3 linked regions of the Homo sapiens genome follow. The protein of the gene in region 1 purifies or fractionates together with the protein of each later gene. This does not show direct contact. Each region holds a gene or a part of one and is shown in the gene's direction. Other genes may lie near its edges.

What was found.
Region 2: the proteins of NFIL3 (region 1) and FUCA2 purify together in Homo sapiens (affinity purification with mass spectrometry; one large-scale study listed by BioGRID and IntAct). This does not show direct contact.
Region 3: the proteins of NFIL3 (region 1) and COP1 purify together in Homo sapiens (affinity purification with mass spectrometry; 3 studies listed by BioGRID and IntAct, with this or other methods). This does not show direct contact.

The regions. Positions count from the first base shown.
Region 1 is NC_000009.12:91,408,544-91,411,346, reverse strand, and holds the end of NFIL3 (nuclear factor interleukin-3-regulated protein), read left to right. Parts: intron 1-166; exon of another isoform or gene 167-344; intron 345-440; 5' UTR 441-612; coding exon 613-2,001; 3' UTR 2,002-2,302; downstream 2,303-2,803.
Region 2 is NC_000006.12:143,498,210-143,501,868, reverse strand, and holds part of FUCA2 (plasma alpha-L-fucosidase precursor), read left to right. Parts: intron 1-3,659. UniProt on the Homo sapiens protein: Alpha-L-fucosidase is responsible for hydrolyzing the alpha-1,6-linked fucose joined to the reducing-end N-acetylglucosamine of the carbohydrate moieties of glycoproteins.
Region 3 is NC_000001.11:176,200,715-176,204,373, reverse strand, and holds part of COP1 (E3 ubiquitin-protein ligase COP1), read left to right. Parts: intron 1-3,659. UniProt on the Homo sapiens protein: E3 ubiquitin-protein ligase that mediates ubiquitination and subsequent proteasomal degradation of target proteins.

The DNA.
Region 1 (2,803 bases):
AGTGATGTAAATATTAGGTAACATTATTTAGAAGCACCACGGTATGCATGTACTGTTTAGAAACTTACCAACCAGAGGCTATCTGTCATTTCCTTCCTGTAATTGCCCACACCCAACTATTTCTCCATTTCGCCTCATTAAATACAGCCTTCCTCTACTTCTCTCTGGGCAGAGGTTATTTTATTTTTCCCTCACTTTCCTGGATCACATATTCTCTTACTGATAGGCCTCATTAGGGATTTGTCCTTTACAGCTTTATAGTTTAGGTATTTGGGAACTTATTTCCTTTTTGAAAATGCTAACTTGTTGAAAGAAAGAACTGTGGCCATGCCTCATCTGTGCTTGTATGCCCTAAATGCTTAGCATATTTCCTTGTACATAATTTGTAATAAACATTTATCCAGTGAATAACTGGTTTTTTTTTTATTCATGTATTGCAGATAACGAAGGAGGCCCAACTTCATTCAATAAGGAGCCTGACGGATTTATCCCAGACGGTAGAACAAAAGGAAGAATATTGATGGATTTTAAACCAGAGTTTTTAAAGAGCTTGAGAATACGGGGAAATTAATTTGTTCTCCTACACACATAGATAGGGTAAGGTTGTTTCTGATGCAGCTGAGAAAAATGCAGACCGTCAAAAAGGAGCAGGCGTCTCTTGATGCCAGTAGCAATGTGGACAAGATGATGGTCCTTAATTCTGCTTTAACGGAAGTGTCAGAAGACTCCACAACAGGTGAGGAGCTGCTTCTCAGTGAAGGAAGTGTGGGGAAGAACAAATCTTCTGCATGTCGGAGGAAACGGGAATTCATTCCTGATGAAAAGAAAGATGCTATGTATTGGGAAAAAAGGCGGAAAAATAATGAAGCTGCCAAAAGATCTCGTGAGAAGCGTCGACTGAATGACCTGGTTTTAGAGAACAAACTAATTGCACTGGGAGAAGAAAACGCCACTTTAAAAGCTGAGCTGCTTTCACTAAAATTAAAGTTTGGTTTAATTAGCTCCACAGCATATGCTCAAGAGATTCAGAAACTCAGTAATTCTACAGCTGTGTACTTTCAAGATTACCAGACTTCCAAATCCAATGTGAGTTCATTTGTGGACGAGCACGAACCCTCGATGGTGTCAAGTAGTTGTATTTCTGTCATTAAACACTCTCCACAAAGCTCGCTGTCCGATGTTTCAGAAGTGTCCTCAGTAGAACACACGCAGGAGAGCTCTGTGCAGGGAAGCTGCAGAAGTCCTGAAAACAAGTTCCAGATTATCAAGCAAGAGCCGATGGAATTAGAGAGCTACACAAGGGAGCCAAGAGATGACCGAGGCTCTTACACAGCGTCCATCTATCAAAACTATATGGGGAATTCTTTCTCTGGGTACTCACACTCTCCCCCACTACTGCAAGTCAACCGATCCTCCAGCAACTCCCCGAGAACGTCGGAAACTGATGATGGTGTGGTAGGAAAGTCATCTGATGGAGAAGACGAGCAACAGGTCCCCAAGGGCCCCATCCATTCTCCAGTTGAACTCAAGCATGTGCATGCAACTGTGGTTAAAGTTCCAGAAGTGAATTCCTCTGCCTTGCCACACAAGCTCCGGATCAAAGCCAAAGCCATGCAGATCAAAGTAGAAGCCTTTGATAATGAATTTGAGGCCACGCAAAAACTTTCCTCACCTATTGACATGACATCTAAAAGACATTTCGAACTCGAAAAGCATAGTGCCCCAAGTATGGTACATTCTTCTCTTACTCCTTTCTCAGTGCAAGTGACTAACATTCAAGATTGGTCTCTCAAATCGGAGCACTGGCATCAAAAAGAACTGAGTGGCAAAACTCAGAATAGTTTCAAAACTGGAGTTGTTGAAATGAAAGACAGTGGCTACAAAGTTTCTGACCCAGAGAACTTGTATTTGAAGCAGGGGATAGCAAACTTATCTGCAGAGGTTGTCTCACTCAAGAGACTTATAGCCACACAACCAATCTCTGCTTCAGACTCTGGGTAAATTACTACTGAGTAAGAGCTGGGCATTTAGAAAGATGTCATTTGCAATAGAGCAGTCCATTTTGTATTATGCTGAATTTTCACTGGACCTGTGATGTCATTTCACTGTGATGTGCACATGTTGTCTGTTTGGTGTCTTTTTGTGCACAGATTATGATGAAGATTAGATTGTGTTATCACTCTGCCTGTGTATAGTCAGATAGTCCATGCGAAGGCTGTATATATTGAACATTATTTTTGTTGTTCTATTATAAAGTGTGTAAGTTACCAGTTTCAATAAAGGATTGGTGACAAACACAGAACTCCTGCTCCATTGCATTTGATTTGATGGAGAAGAAAAGTCAATTTAAGTTATAAAAATAAATATTAAGATATTTTACATTTTATATGAGAGAGTTTTCTCCCCTGAATAAGAGAAAACTGAAGTGCTAAGTTCAGCAAATAATTTGTTTTTCCAGGCTTCTAAAGAAAGAAAAATAACAGTGAATTTTCTTGCATTTGAGACTAATTCACTAAATTACTTTATATTATATATTTTTCTGTAAGATTATGTTTTCTCTATAATTTTCTTAAGTATAAAAATACAAGTTGTTTGGTAACAGCCTCTTCTTAGTTATCTACCCTTTAAGTATGACACATGGATGTGGATAGTTGAGTCACTGATGCATTTTATTAAAGTCTGTTTTAAAAGAGCAGATAAAGACTGAGGATGAGGCATTTTTATGTTATTATAAGTCTTAACAGTTCTAGAGTATAACAATCTAGGGAACTAAGCTAAACACTGTTTAGTTTCTAAAATTTCA
Region 2 (3,659 bases), on another chromosome or scaffold:
ATAAAGAAGAGTAGGATAAAAAGAGAAATTGGATGAATTCCTACATATACAAAGCACTTTCCAAACTTTGCTTACTCTAATATAAAGAGAAGGGGAAGAATTTGCATGTTTTGAAACATTTATTGTTTATCAGATTGAGCTTACATCATTTCTAGGTATCTCCCAGTAGTGGACAAATTTTGGCTGAAAGTACTCAGCTCTTAGAAAAATTGTAAGCTGTTCAGACCAATGAAAAATGCTGAATGGTTAGTCTAAAACGGAGATTACTGTTTAACCAGTTCGGTAAATTCTGACTTTTGCAGATGTTGCATCCCATGAAATTAGCAAACAAGAGGTACCCAATGGCAGAGAAAATGTTAGATTAAAAATGAATCAAAATAGGGAGGGTTCAGGGAAGATGCTTCTCTCTGAGCTTGAGGAGGTTCTGTGTGTCAATGAGTACCCGAATCAGACTCCACAAATATGACAGTTTCTGATATGGTTTCTTAACATATATAAAATAAGATGAGTATTGGTGAAGTTCTAAAAATTCGCTTTCAGTTGCCACCTGAGTACTGTCTGATCAAATAGGAACCGAAAGATTAGACTAATTGTTCTTCAATCTACTTGACTTATGACTTAAAACATTAACAACCCATTGAATAAAATGGAGTAAGGCAATCTGGACAGAGCAAATAATTGTGGAATTTTAAAATGTTGATCTGGGAGAAGCCATAATGAGAACTCAATACCAATCTCTCATGTGACAGAGAATAGTAGAAATCTGGTTTTGGAATTTGCTTCTTACTTTTGAATACTTACATTTGAATATGAGGGTATCTGATCTGGGACTTCACAATCATTAACCATTATTCTATTGTGTTTATTTCAAGAAATAAACATAAAAGCTAAATATTTAATGTGGCTTATAAAACTGTGAGTCTGGCTCCTACCAACTTCCCTGCCACTGAGTGGTCCTGCTCTCCCTCCTCACCATAGGAGCCTTCTTCCCCCAGGGTTCATCATGCCCACCTTCTTGCAGTCACCTACAGACTCCCAGGTCAACCCTTAAAATCCTTTGAGAGAGCCCTGGCTTGCTGTCCCTGTCCCCAGAACTACTCTTCACATAATTCTTAGAGATTTAAATTTTTATTCACAGTTCTAATTACCTGCACCTCCTGTCTTCTAGGGGTCTTGTCCGCTTGACCTTTGTTACCTGTTCCTTTGCATTATCAATATACAAGGTCATATTGGTAATGCAAAGTCGAACTTCTTACTCAACACTTCCACTTGGATGCATAGCATCTTAGACCTGTACGTCCACAACTGAAGCCCTGAGTTTTAAATTTTTGCTGTAGACTAGCTCCACCCACGGTCTTCTCCATCTCAGTTAATGGCAGCTTTATCCTTTAGGTGGTTGTCAGGCCAAAAACCTTGGTGTCCTTAACTTCCCTTTCTTTTATAAACATACTTTAGACTTTGCATTACCAATAACTGAACCCCTTCCACGGCTCCAGTTTGAAGGATTCTGCCATCTACCTACCACTTCTTATATTTTGGCTCACTCTGCATGGCACTTCGGCTTCCAAAGGGATCTATAATCCAGTGATCATACTATCTTTTAATCCTATCATCTTTTCTCTGTCTTTTTCCTTATCCGGGACAGATTCTGTGGCCCATCACTGTAACTAATCTATTGCATACACCCAACTCCTGAACCCTTGCTCCCTCTGCCATACTCACTTGACGGAACATCAACTTTAAATACAGATCTACTTATTCCATGCCTGCTTCTGGACAGCTAACTGTTAACTATGGAAACACACACACACACACACGCACCCAGACACATACAATGTAAAATTATCTCACTTTTGGCTTTAAGGTCAACCCTTGTGTCCTGATCCCATTGCAAATCATCCACCCAAGGATTGTTATAGCAATTCTCCCCTTTAACTCAATTTCACTTGCATTTCTAGTGATCTTCCCATTTCTCTCCTTTCCTTTGTAGTAAAACGTCTTGAAAGGATTGTTTTCACTTGCTATCTCTAATTCCTTGCTACAGTTTTTCTCTTGAACCCCCTCTGGTCGAGCTTCCACCCCCACACTCCAGAATTGCTCTTCTCAAGGCCCACAATAACATCTGCCTTGCCAGTTCCAGTGATGAGTCCCCAGTGCTCATTTTCTTAACTTACTGGCAGTGTCTGCCTCAGTTTATCACTGTCTCTCCTGGTGTTTGTCGTACCTTTTGGCTCTTCCTTCTTAGTTAGTTCCTTTGCTGATTTCATCTCATTTTTCCAACCTCTAAATCTTGAAGTGCCCTGAGGTTTAGTCTTTGGACTTCCATTCTTCTCTATCTTTTTTTGAGTGCACTGGTGCGATCTTGGCTCACGGCAACCTCCACCTCCCAGGTTCAAGTGATTCTCCTGCCTCAGCCTCCTGAGTAGCTGGGATTACAGGTGTCCGCCACCAAGCCTGGCTAATTTTTTTGTATTTTTAGTAGAGATGGGGTTTCACCATGTTTGGCCAGGCTGGTCTCGAACTCCTGACCTCAGGTGACCCGCTTGCCTTGGCCTCCCAAAGTGCTGGGATTACAGGCGTGAGCCACTGCGTTTATCTTAATGTCCCAGGTGATCTTATCCATTTTCATGGCTTTAAATGCCATATTGATGATCTCCACATTTCTATTTCCAGTGCAGACCTCTTTCCGAACTCCAGCCTCAATAACTTCCTACTCAGCATTTCCACTTAGATGCATAGCATCTTAGACCTGTACATCCAAAACTGAAATCCTGAGTTTTAAAATTTTGCTATCAACTAGCTCCACCCATGGTCTTTCCCATCTCAGTTAACGGCAGCTTCATCCTTTAGGTGGTTGTCAAGCCCAAAACCTTGAAGCCCTTAGTTTCCCCTTCTTTTATAGTCACAGCCAACCCATTAGCAGATATCATCCTCTGCATCTTTGAAATATATTCAGAATCTGTCCACTTCTTATCCTCTCTGTGGCAACCCTCATCCTTTTAGTTTCCATTGTCTCGCCCCTGCCTGGATTATTTCAGTAGCTTCTTAATAGGTCTCTATTTCTACCCTTTAACCTATTCACCACAAAGCAATCAGAGTATACTTTTAAATAATAATGCCACTCCCATGGTCACATTTCTCCAATGGCTTCCAGTCTCAGAGAGAAGGCCAGGTCCCATAGATGCTTACAAGGGCCTATAAAATCTGGCTCCTATCGCCTCTCTGATCTTATCTGCCATCACCCTCCCCCACTTCCTCTCCTTCAGGCACTCTGCCTTGCTAGTGCATCAACAGGCAGAGCACACTCTTGCACTGGGGCTCCTGCACTTGTCATTCTGTCTGGAAGGTTTTCCCCAGACGCTCCCGTGGTGCTCTTATGGCGCTCCCATGGTTCTCTTCCATGCCACCTCTAAGAAGTCTTCCCTGACTATTCTGTTTAAAATAACACTCCCAGGCCCCTCCTTTCCTACCTAGCATGCCCTGTCCTTCTAACCTGGCTTGTTTTCTCCATAGCATTTAATCAACACCTGACATATTTGTTGATTCTAATTTCTTCCACTAGAATGTAAGCCCCATGAGGACAAGGACTTTGTTCAATGTTGTATATAGCTCTAAAACAGTGTCTAGCATTTTAAGATTTCAATAAGTATTTCTTGAGT
Region 3 (3,659 bases), on another chromosome or scaffold:
TATTTAAACGAAGCCCAAGTTCAAATAATGATAATTTCTTATTCATTTATGGGACATTTTAAAGATATGCTTATGCTTCACGTTTTATTTTATCCTTAGAACAATTCTGTGATGTTATATATAACTTATTTTTAATACAATACTAATTATTTTCTCATTGAGGCACAGAGAAGTAATTTTGTTTGTCGTTGGACAGGTAAGGACAAAATGAGAACTCAGATTTCCCAGTTCTCAACTTTGTGTTTTCTTTGTGTGCAATTAGAGAGTTTCAGATCTGTAAGTTCGAGTACATGTATTTAGCCCAGTGGTTCTTAAACGGCACAGATTGGAGGAGAAGCAGCTGTTTCATAATCATATGAGATAAATGTTTTATCCCTCACCACTCCCTTTTCTTACCTGCCCACATCCCAAGAAGACGTACCTGAATTGGAGGCTGGGGTGGGTGGTGTAATTTGCATATGCTCCCCTGGTGATAGGGACCTGTCCTTCTCCCCTCCTTGAGAACTGTTGATTTAAATAGTCACGTACCTAATTTCAGTAATAAACATTGGCCTCTCCTGACTTATATTTGAAAGTAAGTTTATATTTAATTGAAGAATTCATAAACATTTTAGGGGTTTAGGTTGCATTTTTATATTTTATTTTACACAAAAGATTGAAGGTATTATCAAGTTGAATAATTTTAACAGTGTTTTATTGATGGAGAATCTAATACAGGACAGTAGTATTTAGCTTGACATTGGATACATTTTCAACATTCAGAGGAAGTCTTTGTTATTTTGTTTTTTGCAAAATTTTCTTACGGTTCATTTAACTAGACTGTGAGTCTGGTCTGTATTTGAAAGATGACTTCTGTTTTTTATACGGACTCCTTTTTTAAACAATTCTATAACTACTGCCTTTGTATTAGCTTTTCCAGCTATCTCAAATGAAGTTTTCTACCTCTGCAAGTCCCAGCCATTCTTGCAGCAGAAGTATACGTTTGCATGTAGATAGTAAGCTCTTTATGAGAAGGTTGACTTTTTTTCTTTTTTTTTGAGACGGAGTCTCGCTCTGCTGCCCAGGCTGGAGTGCAGTGGTGCGATCTCGGCTCACTGCAAGCTCCGCCTCCCGGGTTCACGCCATTCTCCTGCCTCAGCCTCCCGAGTAGCTGGGACTACAGGCGCCGGCCACCCCGCCCGGCTAATTTTTTGTATTTTTAGTAGAGGCGGGGTTTCACTGTGTTAGCCAGGATGGTCTCGATCTCCTGACCTCATGATCCGCCCGCCTCTGCCTCCCAAAGTGCTGGGATTACAGGCGTGAGCCACCGCGCCCGGCCGAGAAGGTTGACTTTTAATCATCTGCTTGATAGAAAATAGTTAGGATCTACATTAAATAGATCTACCATTCAGTAAATATGTGACTGCCTATTTTGTGTTAAACTAAGATTCTCTCTTCTTAAGGAGCTCATGATTTAATTCGAAGAATGGCTTTTAACTGTGTAATTATAATATCATAACCTGGTATCATTGCCTCTCTTAGTGTCATGACAGATGTTAGTACCATTCCTTTTTCTTAGTGCCATGGCAGATGTTAAATACTCTAATGGACTATGCATAGTACAATATATAGCCATTACCTATTAATTACATTTTAGCACTAAAAATGAAGCCTGTTGACCATTCTTGTTAATATAACTGGTTTCCAATTTTTTTTTTCCTTTTTTTGAGACAGGGCTCTCCCTATGTTGCCCAGGCTAGTCTCAAACTCCTGGGCTCAAGCAATCTTCATGTCTTAGCCTCTCAAGCAGCGGGGATTAGAGACGGGTGCCACCACCTGTAATCCCAGGATATTTTTAATAGTCTGAAAAACACGTGGCTCTGTTTTTCAGACTATTAAAAAGTGAGGGTGGGCACCTTGGTTCACGCCTGTAATCCCAGCCCTTTGGTAGGCCAGGGCAGGAGGATTACTTGAACCCAGGAGTTTGAGACCATCCTGGGCAACATGACGAAACCCCATCTCTACAAAAAATACAAAAATTAGCCTGTGTGGTGGCTTGTGCCTGTAGTCCCAGCTACTCAAGAAGCTGAGATGGGAGGATCACTTGAGCCTGTGAGGTCGAGGCTGCAGGGAGCTATGATCACACCACTGCACTCCAGCCTGGACGACAAAGTGAGACCCTGTCTCCAAAAAAAAAAAAAAAAAAAAAGTGAACTAGAACGTATCATAGAATCTGTCGTAATAAAGACAGTAACAGTTTGTGCAGCAATGTATGTGGAATGTATTTCTCACTGGGTACACTGGTAAAATTTTTTTTAAAGTCACTGAATTATAGGACTGAATTTCCTCTGATAGGAAAGTGGAAAGTTTAAGTGACTTTTCTTTTTAGACCATTGTGAGCTTATAAATATAGGACTAAATATAATTTAAAGAGCTGTTAAAAGCATGTTCAGTTACTGGAATAAACCAGCATTTATTATATTATTATAGTAATATCTGTCAAGAACTTATTTGAATCTGCAAAAGTCAAACTTGATGCTTCTTTTGCTTTATAATACATGTGCCATTTGGATGTCAATGATGAAACATACTCTGCAGGAGATGATGTCATATTTTATCAGACCTATTGGTACTGTCAGACCTGTGGACTATCAGATGGTGGGGCATCAGCATCAATGGTAGCAGGAGACTTCTATGGGTGAATTAAATGGTAGAGAAAATAGATGATCATGAAACAGGATAGGAAGACTATTAACTTGGAATTGTAGTCTATAAATTGAGAAGAAGGTACTTGTGCAATAGTAGTTCATTACTAAAGAATGTGTTGATAAGCAGTTATCTTTTCCTTTTACAAATCTTTATACCTTTTCTGATAATGAGCCAACATTACATAGGTGGATATGTTCCATCTAAGAACTGTTACTGATTAAAGTAACTGTAGCCTTAAACCTTGTTGCTTACTTTTCCTTCTTGTATGTGTATGTTTTTTCTTAATGGTGATTTTTTCATATTTTATATAATTATTTTAACCTGCTACCCTTTTCCTCAGAAAACTTCCACAGCTTGGGAGGAAAGGCTTTTTTGACGGTGGAATTAGCCCATCGTCTTTTTCCTGTTAAAATTTGTATTACAGGGTGAGTATCCTCTATCTGAAGTGCTTGAGACCAGAAGTGTTTTGGATTTTAGGGGTTTTTTTGGTTTTTGTTTTCGAATTTTAGAATATTTAAATTATATTTACCAGGTTAGTATCCTTAATCTGAAAAATCTGAAATCCAAAATGCTCCAGTGAGCATTTCCTCTGATAGTCATGTTGGCACTGAAAAAATTTTTGATTTTGCATGATTTTGGATTTCAGATTTTCAGATTAGGGATATTCAACCTGTATACCAAATAAAATGTTTTTTAAGTTGGGCATGATGGTGCATGCTTGTAGTCTCAGCTCCAGGAGTTTGAGTCCATCCTGGGCAATGTAGTGAAACTCTGCTAAATTGTTTTTAAAGTTCTTGATCTGTTTTTATATGTGATGTTGTATGTAGGACAAAATTCTGTAAGCATTCAGGTTTTTGTGCAGACTTGTCTTTGCCCTCCACCTTACTTGTTCTTTGTCCTCTTTCTTTATGTGTGTATGAGCCAAGTTCTATTCAGATAGGTTGGTACTTTCTCAAACAATATATTCACTG